3 separate regions of the Homo sapiens genome follow, and all the other regions are linked to region 3. The links come from fine-mapping of genetic effects on gene expression. A gene starts in region 3. Each other region holds a variant in brackets. All regions are shown on one strand. Distances are between the middles of the regions. Region 1 overlaps STIM1 (stromal interaction molecule 1). Region 2 overlaps STIM1 (stromal interaction molecule 1). Region 3 holds the start of STIM1 (stromal interaction molecule 1).

What was found. PIP is the estimated chance that this variant, and not a neighbour inherited with it, causes the effect. A credible set is the group of variants that fine-mapping cannot tell apart.
Region 1: its variant is the best candidate, but not a certain one, in a credible set for the expression of STIM1 in monocytes (TOPMed, PIP 0.79).
Region 2: its variant is the best candidate, but not a certain one, in a credible set for the expression of STIM1 in whole blood (TOPMed, PIP 0.55).

Annotation. Positions count from the first base shown.
Region 1 is chr11:3,897,875-3,902,874 of GRCh38, forward strand. The region is part of intron 1 of STIM1 (stromal interaction molecule 1); the gene reads left to right. Among named protein-coding and RNA genes, the nearest start is that of PPIAP40, 6.8 kb to the left of the region's middle. The variant C/T (reference allele first, on the strand shown) is at 2,559.
Region 2 is chr11:3,885,942-3,890,941 of GRCh38, forward strand. The region is part of intron 1 of STIM1 (stromal interaction molecule 1); the gene reads left to right. Among named protein-coding and RNA genes, the nearest start is that of PPIAP40, 5.1 kb to the right of the region's middle. The variant G/C (reference allele first, on the strand shown) is at 2,595.
Region 3 is chr11:3,853,211-3,858,210 of GRCh38, forward strand. STIM1 (stromal interaction molecule 1) reads left to right here and starts at 2,454. Exons shown (of 13, transcript NM_001382567.1): 1 at 2,454-3,199. The coding sequence starts at 3,061. It overlaps STIM1-AS1 (STIM1 antisense RNA 1), which reads right to left and starts at 2,368. Exons shown (of 2, transcript NR_183662.1): 1 at 2,147-2,368; 2 at 1,113-1,448. MIR4687 (microRNA 4687) reads left to right here and starts at 2,852; the gene lies at 2,852-2,931. RefSeq lists enhancers at 1,430-1,499, 1,709-2,654, 2,870-3,079, 3,230-3,309, 3,320-3,369 and silencers at 1,840-1,889, 2,370-2,429, 2,490-2,649.

The DNA.
Region 1 (5,000 bases), 45 kb after region 3:
TGGTGTATATGTGCCACATTTTCTTAGTCCAGTCTACCATTGTTGGACATTTGGGTTGGTTCCAAGTCTTTGCTGTTGTGAATAATGCCGCAATAAACATACGTGTGCATGTGTCTTTATAGCAGCATGATTTATAGTCCTTTGGGTTATACCCAGTAATGGGATGGCTGGGTCAAATGGTATTTCTAGTTCTAGATCCTTGAGGAATCGCCACACTGACTTCCACAATGGTTGAACTAGTTTATAGTCCCACCAACAGTGTAAGAGTGTTCCTATTTCTCCACATCCTCTCCAGCACCTGTTGTTTCCTGACTTTTTAATGATTGCCATTCTAACTGGTGTGAGATGGTATCTCATTGTGGTTTTGATTTGCATTTCTCTGATGGCCAGTGATGGTGAGCATTTTTTCATGTGTCTTTTGGCTGCATAAATGTCTTCTTTTGAGAAGTGTCTGTTCATGTCCTTTGCCCACTTTTTGATGGGGGTTGTTTGTTTTTTTCTTGTAAATTTGTTTGAGTTCATTGTAGATTCTGGATATTAGCCCTTTGTCAGATGAGTAGGTTGTGAAAATTTTCTCCCATTTTGTCAGTTGCCTGTTCACTCTGATGGTAGTTTCTTTTGCTGTGCAGAAGCTCTTTAGTTTAATTAGATCCCATTTGTCAATTTTGGCTTTTGTTGCCATTGCTTTTGGTGTTTTAGACATGAAGTCCTTGCCCATGCCTATGTCCTGAATGGTAATGCCTAGGTTTTCTTCTAGGGTTTTTATGATTTTAGGTCTAACGTTTAAGTCTTTAATCCATGTTGAATTAATTTTTGTATAAGGTGTAAGGAAGGGATCCAGTTTCAGCTTTCTACATATGGCTAGCCAGTTTTCCCAGCACCATTTATTAAATAGGGAATCCTTTCCCCATTGCTTGTTTTTCTCAGGTTTGTCAAAGATCAGATAGTTGTAGATATGCGGCGTTATTTCTGAGGGCTCTGTTCTGTTCCATTGATCTATATCTCTGTTTTGGTACCAGTACCATGCTGTTTTGGTTACTGTAGCTTTGTAGTATAGTTTGAAGTCAGGTAGCGTGATGCCTCCAGCTTTGTTCTTTTGGCTTAGGACTGACTTGGCGATGTGGGCTCTTTTTTGGTTCCACATGAACTTTAAAGTAGTTTTTTCCAATTCTGTGAAGAAAGTCATTGGTAGTTTGATGGGGATGGCATTGAATCTATAAATTACCTTGGGCAGCATGGCCATTTTCACGATATTGATTCTTCCTACCCATGAGCATGGAATGTTCTTCCATTTGTTTGTATCCTCTTTTATTTCACTGAGCAGTGGTTTGTAGTTCTCCTTGAAGAGGTCCTTCACATCCCTTGTAAGTTGGATTCCTAGGTATTTTACTCTCTTTGAAGCAATTGTGAATGGGAGTTCACTCATGATTTGGCTCTCTGTTTGTCTGTTATTGGTGTATAAGAATGCTTGTGATTTTTGTACATTGATTTTGTATCCTGAGAGTTTGCTGAAGTTGCTTATCAGCTTAAGGAGATTTTGGGCTGAGACAATGGGGTTTTCTAGATATACAATCATGTCATCTGCAAACAGGGACAATTTGACTTCCTCTTTTCCTAATCGAATACCCTTTATTTCCTTCTCCTGCCTAATTGCCCTGGCCAGAACTTCCAACACTATGTTGAATAGGAGTGGTGAGAGAGGGCATCCCTGTCTTGTGCCAGTTTTCAAAGGGAATGCTTCCAGTTTTTGTCCATTCAGTATGATATTGGCTGTGGGTTTGTCATAGATAGCTCTTATTATTTTGAGATACATCCCATCAATACCTAATTTATTGAGAGTTTTTAGCATGAAGCGTTGTTGAATTTTGTCAAAGGCCTTTTCTGCATCTATTGAGATAATCATGTGGTTTTTGTCTTTGGCTCTGTTTATATGCTGGATTACATTTATTGATTTGTGTATATTGAACCAGCCTTGCATCCCAGGGATGAAGCCCACTTGATCATGGTGGATAAGCTTTTTGATGTGCTACTGGATTCGGTTTGCCAGTATTTTATTGAGGATTTTTGCATCAATGTTCATCAAGGATATTGGTCTAAAATTCTCTTTTTTGGTTGTGTCTCTGCCCAGCTTTGGTATCAGGATGATGCTGGCCTCATAAATTGAGTTAGGGAGGATTCCCTCTTTTTCTATTGATTGGAATAGTTTCAGAAGGAATGGTACCAGTTCCTCCTTGTACCTCTGCCTAAGCAAGCCTGGGCAATGGCAGACGACCCTCCCCCAGCCTCACTGCTGCCTTGCAGTTTGATCTCAGACTGCTGTGCTAGCAATCAGCAAGACTCCCTGGGCGTATGACCCTCCGAGCCAGGTGCGGGATACAATCTCCTGGTGCGCTGTTTTTTAAGCCCGTGGGAAAAGCGCAGTATTGGGGTGGGAGTGACCCGATTTTCCAGGTGCCGTCTGTCGTCCCTTTCTTTGACTAGGAAAGGGAACTCCCTGACCCCTTGCACTTCCCGAGTGAGGCAATGCCTCGCCCTGCTTCGGCTCGTGCACGGTGCGC[C/T]GCACCCACTGTCCTGCACCCACTGTCTGGCACTCCCCAGTGAGATGAACCCGGTACCTCACATGGAAATGCAGAAATCACCATCTTCTGCAGCGCTCATGCTGGGAGCTGTAGGCCAGAGCTGTTCCTATTCGGCCATCTTGGCTCCCGACCTGTTTGTTTGTTTTTTGAGACAGAGTCTTTCCCTCTATTGCCCAGGCTAGAGTGCAGGTTTGCGATCACAGCTCACTGCAGCCTTCTGGGCACAAATGATCCTCCCACCTCAGCCTCCCAAGTATCTGGGACTACAGGCACACCCCGCCATGCCTGGCTAATATATTTTTTGTAGAGATGGGTTCTCACTCTGTTGCCTAAGCTGGTCTTGAACTCCTGGACTCAAGCAGTCTTCCCACCTTGGCTTCCCAAAGTGTTGGGATTACAGGCATGAGCCACTGTGGCTGGCCCAATGCATTGTTTTAAGATATAATGAGTGTAGTGGCTAGGCACGGTGGCTCACACCTGTAATCCCAGCACTTTGGGAGGCTGAGGCAGTCGGATCACTTGAGGTCAGGAGTTCAAGACTAGCCTGGCCAACATGGCGAAACCCTGTCTCTATTAAAAATACAAAAATTAGCCGGGCATGGTGGTGTGCGCTTGTAGTCCCATCTGCTCTGGAGGTTGAGGCAGGAGAATTGCTTGAACCCAGGAGGCGGAGGCTGCAGTCACACCACTGCACTCCAGCCTGGGCGACAGAGAGAGACTCAGCCTCAAAAAAATAAATAAAATAAGTGTTCTTCAGAATGTCAGTATCAGGTGAAATGGCATTATTATTATTACTCAGTAAAAGACCTTTGAGATTAAGTTAGGAAAAGCTAGGAGGCTTTAATATGATAAGGAAAGGTATACAGGGTTTTCTATGTTTTTCTGAACATGTAATCTTTTTTTATCCTCAAAAACCACCTATTGACATTTTGTTAGATACCAGTGTTCCACAGAACACCATTAGGTAAATGAACACAGTGTGGTCCCCTGCTTTTCTATTAGTATGACTTGGAGAAGTAGTATGGCCAGCTGTCCTTTAGTTGACAAGGTACCTCCATGGCTCCTTTTCAAAGAGAAAATGAGATACTTAATGACAGCTTATGTGTCAGAAAATCTCCTAAGTGTTTAACATAGATTACATCTTTGTGTTCACAATAGCTCTATGAGATTGCTGATATAGTTTTCTCCATGTTGTTGTTGTAGAAAGGTATAGATCTTGGTTAATCCACCAGTCCCTGGTTATGTCTCAGACTCAGTGGTAGGAGATTTAGCTAACTGAGCTTTTATTGTTTGCCTAAGCCTTCTTCATTTTTTTCTTTTGAGATAGCATCTCGCTCTGTTGCCCAGGCTGGAGTACACTCCAGCAGTGCAGCCACAGCTCACTGCACCCTTGACTTCCTGGGCTCAGGTGATCCTCCTGCCCCAGGCTCCAGTCTCCTGAGTAGCTGAAACTACAGGCACGTGCCACGATGCCCAGCTAATTTTTGTATTTTTTGTAGAGACGGGGTTTTGCCATATTGCCCAGGCTGGTCTCGAACTCGTGAGCTCAAGCAATCTTCCTGCCTTGGTCCCCCAAAGTGCTGGGATTACAGGCATGAGCCAATGTGGCTGGCCCCCAACATTTCTTAAACATTTATTGTTCTTGGGTAATGGAGATGTAGTGATGGAAAACCAGACACTGCCTCATGGAACTTAATCTAATAGAGATGATTAGATATGAGTGTGGAAGTATAAGTTACACATTGGGACTTTAGAGGTTAAGGGAAGGCAGATATTTTTATGAGTTACTGTAGCTTCCTGGGATGGTGTGACTTAACTAATCCCTAAAACTCTGTTTAAGTTTATATACTGCAGAAGCTTGGGAGGCATTTAGATTGGAAAATGACCTGAGTGAAAATAGGAGTGAGCAGAGAGCAGCGATCCCCAATCTTTTTGGCACCAGGGATCGGTTTCATGCAAGATAATTTTTCCACAGACCAGGGTGCGGGGTGGGGATGATTTTGGGATGAAACTGTTTCACTTCAGATCATCAGGCATTAGATTCTCATAAGGAGCACGCAACCTAGATTCCTCGCATGTGCAGTTCACAATAGGCTTTGCACTCCTGTGAGAACCTAATGCTGCCACTGATATGACAGGAGGCGGAGCTCAGGCAGTAATGCTCGCTTGCCTGCCGCTCACCTCCTGCTGTGTGGCCTGGTTCCTAACAAGGCACGGACTGGTACAGTCTGCAGCCTGAGGGTTGGGGACCCTTGGCATAGGGAATAGAATGCTCAGGAGAAGGTGGTATCCTGTACTGCTCTTAGGCATGACACCACCTGTGAGACTGCTGAAGGCGTTAATTTCTGGCCAGCTGAAGGTAGCATTGCCAGAAGGAGGAGCTGGGCAGATTGCAATTGGTGTTGTGGATAGAGGCAAAGG
Region 2 (5,000 bases), 33 kb after region 3:
TCCAGTTTTCGATGTGAGTTTGAGCATGATCGTAGGCAAGGGCCCATCAATGAAGGTGTTGAGGATATAGCATTGTCCTGCTTTGGCTCAAGGGGACTTTTCCTGCCTTTGATTAAGGATTGGCATGGGTGAGTCATTTCCCATAGTCTGAGGGATGTGGGATATAAAGAATGAATTGTTATCTCCGATGATATCTTGAATATCACACATTATAGGCCAAATATAGGTGCTAAACCATTTGGCTTGAATTCTTTATAGAAAATTCACTGGGAACCCAATGATAAAATAGAGAAAGACGGATAACCTAAGAGGGAGGAGCAATCTGGTGAGACATTCTTTTCACCTTTTCACACATGAGCAATTAAAAACTTGAGGGAAGTTGATTTTTTTTTTAACTCTGTAAATAGCTACTGGTATAATTCCTTGAGGCTGGTATTGTATTTTGTGCTATAAGAAGAGAGACTTGGCTGGGCGCGGTGGCTCACGCCTGTCATCCCAGCACTTTGGGAGGCCAAGGCAGGCAGATCACGAGGTCAGGAGATCGAGACCACCCTGGATAACATGGTGAAACCCTGTCTCTACTAAAAATACAAGAAATTAGCCGGGTGTGGTGGCAGGCACCTGTAGTCCCAGCTACTCGGGAGGCTGAGGCAGGAGAATGGCGTGAACCTGGGAAGTGGAGCTTGCAGTGAGCAGACATCACGCCACCTCACTCCAGCCTGGGTGACAGAGCGAGACTCTGTGTCAAAAAAAAAAAAAAAAAAAAAAAAGGTCTTATTTGGCCGGGTGCGGTGGCTCATGCCTGTAATTCCAGCACTTTGGGAGGCCGAGGCGGGCGGATTACGAGGTCAGGAGATCGAGATCATCCTGGATAACATGGTGAAACCCCGTCTTTACTAAAATACAAAAAATTAGCCAGGTGTGGTGGCGGGTGCCTGTAATCCTAGCTACTCAGGAGGCTGAGGCAGTAGAATCACTTTTCACTCAGGAGGCGGAGGTTGCAGTGAGCCGAGATCGCACCACTGCACTCCAGCCTGGCGACAGAGCAAGACTCTGTCTCAAAGAAAAAAAAAAAGAAGAGAGACGGGCCATATACTCAAGGAGTTTCCAAATATATCCAGAGGTGAAACAAACATCTAGGATGAAAAGGGTCCAGGGACTAGTATTGTACACAGTCAGAGGAGGTAGAGGGCTGTGAGTTTGGTAATAAGAGAGGAGGCTTGGGAAACCCAGCCTGAGTCTAGGTCCAGAGGGCAGCATGCACTGGGTGAGGGCCTCTAGGGAGAGTAAAGCAGGATACATTCTTGTCCTTATACTTCCTTCCCTGTTTCTGTACCTGCTCACTTTTGCCCTGCAACAAATAAACCTTTAAGCATCTGTTCTCAGCCTGGCCTTGCACTGGGCAAAACTGGAAACATGGGCATTATGAAACCTGGGCCATACATCTAGAAGTGCTTAATATATTGTGAGAGGTGAACCTGGAAACAATGGACTGTAATGGCATGGGTCAAGGTATGTAATAGACAGAGATGGATTTGATATATCAGAGTGCCGACCTACTGACTCTGTCTTGGGATTAGGTAAACCTACCTTTAAAAAGGCATTGAGACAGGGCCTGGTTAGAGAAACCTGTTAAGGTTATTGCCAGAAGATGAAGCGGAGGTACAGAATGCTACTTTTGGGGTATGGCTGCTTTAGGGCCTTTCATTTCGTTTTCAGATTTGATGAAAGAATAGGGCATCTGTGGCCAGGCGCAATGGCTCACACCAGTAATCCTAGCACTTTGGGAGGCCGAGACGGGCGGATCACGAGGTCAGGAGATTGAGACCATCCTGGCTAACATGGTGAAACCCTGCCTCTACTAAAAATACAAAAAATTAGCCGGACGTGGTGGCATGCACCTGTAGTCCCAGCTACTTGAGAGGCTGAGGCAGGAGAATCGCTTCAACCCGGGAGGCACGGAGGTTGCAATGAGTGGAGATCGCACCACTGCACTCCAGCCTGGGTGACAGAGTGAGACTCTGTCTCAAAAAAAAAAAAAAAAAATAGGACATCTGTGTCCAGGAATCTTTTTATCTCCCCACCACCCCTCAAGCAGTGCTGGGCTGACTGCAGAAGGCTCTTCCCTGTTCTGCACTTGTTCCATTTCTGTTTTTGAAAGATGAAGCCTGGGAGGTGCCAGAGCTATGCCAGCTGCTATGGGGCCAGAAACAGGTGAGGCTTTTAGGTCTGCTTGAGTTAAGGAGTGAGGGGTTTGTCCTCTTCAGCTAGCTTAAGGTCTCTGCTATGAAACTAGATAAGTATTCACATAGCTTGTTTTTCATTTGGGGCTATTTTCAGCCTTGGAGGCCAGCAAGGTGAATGATTGAGATGCTTTTATGGGGTTCAAGCTTTTGCTAGATCCTATTTGCCAGGATAGGTGCTCAGCCATTTTCCAGGACATCAGCTTTTCTGAACAAGCAGCACTGAAAGGAAGAAGCACTTCCCTTTTCTTTCAGGGGGCAGTATAGGAAATGTGAGGGTGGGTGGTCAGTTTAATATTATAACCCAGGTTTTAAGTAGAGAGGCTGTATAGTTTGGAACATTGCCATATA[G/C]TCTTTTTTTTTGAATTTTTGAGACAGAGTCTCCCTCTGTTGCCCAGGCTAGTGTGCAGTGGTGTGCTTTCTGCTCACTGCAGCCTCCACCTCCCAGATTCAAGGGATTTTCCTGCCTAAGCCTGGAGATTACAGGTGCACACCACCTGGGATTACAGGTGTGCACCACCATACCCAGCTGACTTTTTGTATTTTTAGTAGAGACGGGGTTTCACCATGTTGGCCAGGCTGGTCTTGAACTCCTGACCTCAAGTGATCCGCCCGTGTCGGCTTCCCAAAGTGCTGGGATTACAGGTGTTAGCCACCATGCCCGGCCGCCGTGTAGTCTTTAATGCAGTTTTGAGGGACTCATCTGAATTGTTCTTGTGTTTTTCTTGTCATCTTGACTGCCAGGCTTTACTATGGGGGTGGAGCTCTGTAAATGTATAGATCTGCTGCTGTCCAGAGACTTGATCTCTTTTGTGCTTGCACACCTCTAGGGCTAACAAAGCAGATGGAGTGGCCTGTACAAAGAGGTGATGCATCAGTGGTCTGTATCCAGGAGTGTTCTTGGGAGTTCCCTGTTTAGTGAGTGCTTACTATGTGCCAGGCAGCTGTGGCAACAGCAGTCATCATACTAGATGCTGAGGTTTTATCAGAGATACCTAAGGCAAGATCATTATCTTATCCCTGAGGCCCAACAAATAAATATTTGTTGTTTAATAAATGTTGATCCAAGGAATAAACTATATTTTAAAGGAACCCAGACACAGGGGGTGTGAGAAGGAAGCTAGCAGTCATTGAATGCCTACTATGTGCCAAGTACTGTGTTAAGTGCTTTCACAGATATTTAATTTTTTTTTTTTTTTTTGAGATAGAGTCTCGCTTTGTCGCCCAGGCTGGAGAGCAATGGCACGATTTTGGCTCACTGCAACCTTCACCTCCTGGGTCCAAGCGATTCTCTTACCTCAGCCTCCAGAGTAGCTGGGATTACAGGCACACGCCACCGCATCTGGCTAATTTTTTTATTTTTATTTTTTAGTAGAGATGGAGTTTCACCGTGGATACTTAATTTTTAATACGGTCTTCTGAGATTGTTAATGTTATTGATATCTTTGAGATGGACAAAATAAGAGGTTAAATTACTTGTTAAAGTCACTTTCTATTAGCCGTATCTAGGCGCTTTTTTGAGGGTCTGGCCTCTAGGTTTGGTAGATGCCTAACAGGGTAACCTTGTTTTTAGTATTGTTGGGTGAGTGGGGCTAGTCTGAGTCTTTTCAAAGTTGCAGGAGATGCAGTTTTCTAGGCTTGGTGCTGAAAATATAGATAAGGATAATATAAGGTACATAAACTGGAAGAATTACTATTGAGTGGGGAGACAGGTAAATAGGCATTACAGGGTAGTAAATATTAAGCAAAGACGGGCCTTTTTACTTTGTGAGAGGTACATTGGGCAGGGACTTTTACTCTGAGACTTCAACTCTTGTCCTTCTTTCCATACCTGTAGCTCCTCATTGGGATCTCCCTTATTCCCTGACCATGTGTTTCGACAGTTTCATGAGTGTTACTTTTTCATCAAGATTGCTTACTCCTTGAGACTAGATATTCTTTTTTTCTTTCTTACTGCCTCTTAGATATCTGACCTAGGCCATCACGCTTACCCTCTCTGGACCTTAGTGGCATTATCTGTAAAACAAGCCTAATGATAGGTGTTTTGCAATCTGAGAGCAGGGGCCAGTCCAAGTGGTGATCTCTGGAGGTTCATCTAGTTTTTCCAAATCTGTGATTTCTGTGATCATCCTCTTTTGGTCCTTATATAGAGCTGGATATCCAAGAGGCTTTAAGTTTGTCACAGAGATTGCTGAAGGTAATTTATGGTACCTCAGAAGTCTTAAGAACTTTTCTGTATCACCCCTGTTAGAGCTACATACCCAGTAGCACTGACAGAGACTCATGGCTTCTCCTGGCCAGTCCCTTGGACTGAACCAGTTTTCTCAGCCTGGTATGGAAGATTTGACTGAAGTTTTAAGCTCAAAAGGATATTGTGGCCGGGCATGGTGGCACACGCCTGTAATCCCAGCTACTCAGGAGGCTGAGGCAGGAGAATCGCTTGAACCTGGGAGGTGGAGGTTGCAGTGAGCCGAGATCACGCCACTGCACTCCAGCCTGGGTGATGGAGCAAGACTCTATTGCAAAAAAAAAGAAAAGCATATTGTATTTAAGTGTATTTTCTAGTATGGCTTATCTCATTATCAGCTAGGTCAACTAGAGGTAGTGCTTTCCTGATTTTGCTTCTAGAAGGCATTCTTTGAGCAGTGGGATAGGACCCCATCCTTAGGACTTTCACCTCTCCAGGTATTGGGCCAGAAGTCTAAAGCTCCATGAAATACTGTTTATGTACAATACCAGCTTGAGCTCTAAACTTGT
Region 3 (5,000 bases):
CTGGCTTAGGTAGAAATGATCAACTGTCAGTCTGAGTGATTAATCTGGGCTGCAGACATGTTTTCTGTGGCCTATATAAGGTTTTATCCTTTTAAACGAATTGCTAATATTTTTTTAAAAAGGATATGTCATATGAAAGTCCAGATTTCCATCTTCTCTCTCTCTCTTTTTTTTTTTTTTTAATTGAGACAGGGTCTTGCTCTGTTGCCCAGGCTGGAGTGCAATGGTGTGATCATGGCTCACTGCAGCCTTGAGCTCCTGGATTTAAGCGATCATCCCCCCTCAGCCTGCTGAGTAGCTGGGACCACAGAAGCCAGATACCACTCATGGCTAATTAAAAAAATTTTTTTTGTAGAGATGGGGGTCCCACTGTGTTTCCCAGGCTGGTCTTGAACTCATGGGCTCAAGTAATCCTCCCACTTTGGCCTCCCAGAGTGCTGGGATTAGAGATATGAGTCACTGCACCCAGCCCCATCTTCTCTTAATGACACTCCAGCAATACTAGGCCCATCTTTCTGCCTGCTCTCCACAGTCCCCACCACTCCGTATTACTCCTACCTACTTTTCTTAATTGAATTACCTACCTGCCCATTTTGCCATTTGAATTTAAGACCCCTGGCTCAGAGAATAGGTCTAGGAGAACCTAGGTAGGGTTTCAACTGTTCTGGTCAATTTTCCAATATTCCGGTATTAGTTTTTAGTATCTGAGTGTTCAAGTGAATTAACTCATGTAATCCAGCTTTTACAGAGAACTTACTATGTGCAGGGTCTATGGCTGGGTCCTAGTGTCACAGAGATGAATAAGGCACAGTCTCTGACCTGAAAAGTGGCAATCACTATCTGTTGGGGGAGGGGCAGACAGATGTAATGGTCCAATTTTGGCCACAGACTGATTTTGAAGGGGTGGGCAGAGTAAAAGTTTCTAAGGAGACACATTGAGCTGTATCTGGAAGAGTAAGAGACCAGCTACATGAGGAACTGGGAGCAGGCGAGAGTGTTTCATGCAGAAGCAACAGCAGATACAAAGGCTGTGAGGTGGCTGAGTTTGACGTGGTTAGGAACTTAACGAAGGCTAGTGTGACAGGAGCTTAACAGAGCCGGGAGAGTGGTAGTAGGTTACATTAGCCATGTATTTTTATATCAACGGCCTAACCCTTAAGCCAGGCAGCTGTTGGGCAAATTCGTGTTCCCAGTCTTCAGGGGCCTTGCTCAGAACAGGTAGCTGGTTTAGCACTGTCAGTCAGAGGAGGGACTGGGCCTGATCCTTTCCCCTGCGTCTGGTGCCAAGGACAGGGTAGGGCACAGAGGTTTCAGTCAAGATCTGCTGACAGCACGCTTGAGAAGAGAACAGGAAGTGCAGGCTTTGTTGAAGGAGGCTCAGGCGTGGCTCTGTCTTCTTTGGCGCACTCATTCTCAAGTCGCTGACACCTCCTCCACCAGAGAGGTAGCTGGGAGAATGAGATGCAGGGAGGAAGCATTTACAGGCCCCACCGAAAAACCTTAAAGGGCTGAGAGCTTGAGGGCAGGTAGGAAAAAGGGCTGTGAGAGCTAAGGGAGGGCATCCCACTTAGCTTGGAGGGGAAGGGAGGCGGGGTCGGGAAAGCAGATGGCACCCTTTAGCCCAGACTCAAGGAATGTGTAGGGGAATTTTAGCTAGAGTGGTTTGGACATTTCATTTTGCTTTCTGGCATCATCATTTCCTCAGAAAACACTCGCAGGCCCCAGTGGCCCTCGTGGGCCTCCCCCGGGGCGGGTCTTAGCTTCACTCGGCAACCCTCTGCAAAAGAGCAGGCCCTCCCAGGAGCGCCGAGTCCTGTCTGCAGTTTGCTGATTTTCCCACCAGGGGCCGCTGCGCATGGGCGACGAAGCGCGCGGGTTCCCAAGCCGCAGAGAGGCGGAAGCCGATTGGTTGTCAGGCGAGGCGCGAGGGCGGAGCCTGGGAACTGGCCGGGAGTTGGGGGCTGGGAGCTCGCCCCCGGGCCGAGCCGGGTCAGGCTGTTGTCGCCTCAGGCAGCTCCTGGGAGGCTAACGTCGTGTCCTGGGCCTCTGTTTAGACAGCTCTAGAACTGAGGCGAGTGGAGCAGCACCAAGGCCCGGAGATCGGGGCAGGGCAGCTGCTGTCGCCGCCGCCGCAGGCCTGAGTTACCTGAGTAACTGCGGGTCAGGGACCCGCCCGACGGCCCGCGGTTGGCGCTGGAGACTCTCGGTGGGGAAAGGGAAGCTGGGACTTGATCCTTTGCGCGGGATCCTGGCAAAGACTAGCGCGGGCCGGGGGTCCGGGAGAGCCCGCTAGGGGCGGGGATTCCGGGGAGCCGTCTTCACCGGTTATTCCGGGATCCAGCTGGGCGCTGGGGCTGGCCCGGGCTTCGCTGGGGACCGGGCGGCGCGGGGCGGGCGCGGAGACGCACGCCCCCGCCCGCCCCGGGCCCGCCCCGCGCCGCCCGCCCGCCTGGAAGCCGCTGTCCTGGGCCTGGCCGGTGTGCGTCCGCCTGCTGGACCTGGGCACCGCCAGCCGCCTGGGCACGGGACTGGGCGGGGGCGCTGACCTCGGCCTAGGAGGCCCAGGATCCCGGAGACGCCCGCGCCCTCAGGACCCTGCGGGTCGCACGCCCTCCCCAGCTTCTGCTGCTCGCCGCTCTTCGGCAGGGCGAGGTCAGGTGCCCCCTTCTCGCCTCTCTTCTCTTCTCTTCTCTTCCTCCTCCACTTCTGTGCCCGCGGAGACTCCGGCCGCCCCCTTCCGCAGGGGTGTAGTAATCTGCGGAGCTGACAGCAGCCCCGCAGCCACCCTGCCCGAAGTCTCCGGAAGCGGCACGAGCTCAGGCCGCCGCAGCCCCGGCGGACCCACTGTTGGACCTGAGGAGCCAGCCCTCCTCCCGCACCCAAACTTGGAGCACTTGACCTTTGGCTGTTGGAGGGGGCAGGCTCGCGGGTGGCTGGACAGCTGCGGAGCCGCGAGGGCATCTTGCCTGGAGACCGTCGGCTGCACTCCCGGGCTCCTGGCTTTGCCTCTGGGATCCCGAGGTGTCCACATCAGACGCATGTTGACTGAGACCTAGAGTCATGGATGTATGCGTCCGTCTTGCCCTGTGGCTCCTCTGGGGACTCCTCCTGCACCAGGGCCAGAGCCTCAGCCATAGTCACAGTGAGAAGGCGACAGGAACCAGCTCGGGGGCCAACTCTGAGGAGTCCACTGCAGCAGGTAAGGCCTTGCTGCGGGCTGGACTGGGCTGGAGGCTTTGGCTCAGGACTGAGTGGCCCGAAGTGGGCAAGTTGAAATCTAGGTTTGTACATGTGAGGTTCATGGAGGATTCACACATGGCACTGCCTGTTCCAAGTAGTTCAAGAAGTTCTTTCTGGTCAGTAGTCATGGCAAATGCCTGTATCTTTCCTGAACAACTTTCCTCATCCCCCGCACTCAGGATTTTTTTTGTTGGCAGTAAGAAGAAGCCTTTGGGGCAACTTGACCTTTTAGATCAGCAAGGAAAGACCCCATCTTAGGCCTACTTGTCTGGAAGAATGGCCTGGTGAGATGATAAGTTCATTGCTCCTATTCGGTTTTAGTACTGAGCAGCATGGGGGAGGTTGGGGCCACTTATGTTGGAAAGGGAAAGTTAAGGCTGGGCCACCTCTGTTGCCTGAAAGCCTGGTGTTCAGGTGTGCCTATTCCAACAACCGTGGGAACCCTAGTCCCACCCTTCCCTTAGGTAGTCTTGTCTCTTTGCTGTGCGCATTTGAAATATCCAGGCGGTTTCTTAGATGGAATCCTATTTACAACTAGGGTGTTAAATGGCCTTTTCTTGACATAGACATGATATAATTCCTGGGACCACTTGTTGACTTATTCTGTTTCTTCTGACTGATGAGGGTGGGAATTCCATGCTACAGGTTTTTTTTTTTGTTTTTTTTTTTTTTTCCCTGAGTCTGCTTGCTAGGGAAACCATGCTACTTTTGATCTGTCATGGTTTTTCCTATGCAGTTGTGAAGGCTTATCAGGCAGCAGGAGCCCTGGTATACTTTTGCAGTAGAAAGGAACACTTTTATGTTTTGTTTTGTTTTTTTGAGACAGGGTCTTGATCTGTCGTCCAAGCTGGAATGCAGTAGTGTGATCACAGCTCACTACAGCCTCAAACTCCTGGGTTCAAGTGATCCTCCTGCCTCAGCCTCCCGGTAGCTGGGACTAAACACAAGAGCCACTGGGCCTGGCTAACTTTTTTTTTCTTTCTATTTTTAATTTTTTGAACAGACACTGTCTCTCTGTGTTGTGCAGGGATCCCTCCCAAAGTGCTGGGATTACAGGTGTGAGCCACTGTACCCATCAAGGAACTCTATTAAAATCCAGTCATTTTACATAAGGCTTACGAGATCAGTTCTCTTTTCCCATTTCTCTCACCCTTTGGCTGTGATCTGCCCAAAGCTGTGACCTGCAGTGTGGGGAGAGTTTATAGATGAGTTGTTTCTGAGCATAAGCAAGTTCAAATGAGGGAATGGCTCAGTGGGCACCTGCTGATACAAGTCAGAAAAGGAAATATAGGTCATGGTGGCTGGGGAGTTTCATGGATGGATCCAGAAGCTGGCTTTGGTGGTAGACCCTTTATTGGGCAATACCCTTTTAAGTTCCAGATGTTCCAAGAGGTCTGGTTTCCAAATGAGGCCAGGGTTGCCCATGTGTAAGTAGGATACCTGGCTGTTGCTTTCTAGATAGATCCTTTTTGCCTATTAATCCTGTCTCTCCATAGAGAGTCTCCTTGACCTTTGAGACCTGGCTGAAAGCTTGGTTCTTATTGGGCTATGAAGGGAAAGACTAGTGGGCAAATGTAGATTGAACTGTGAAGTAGACCTAATTATCATCTCTTCCTGTCCCTGTGACATTCCTATTTATAACTGATAATATGTCTTTTTTCACTCCAAAATATGAGTGCCTGACATAAGATGAATATTTTTTGGAGAGTGGGTGTTCTATATTTTAGACATAAGCTAAAGGGATGAAATTTTGAATGTAG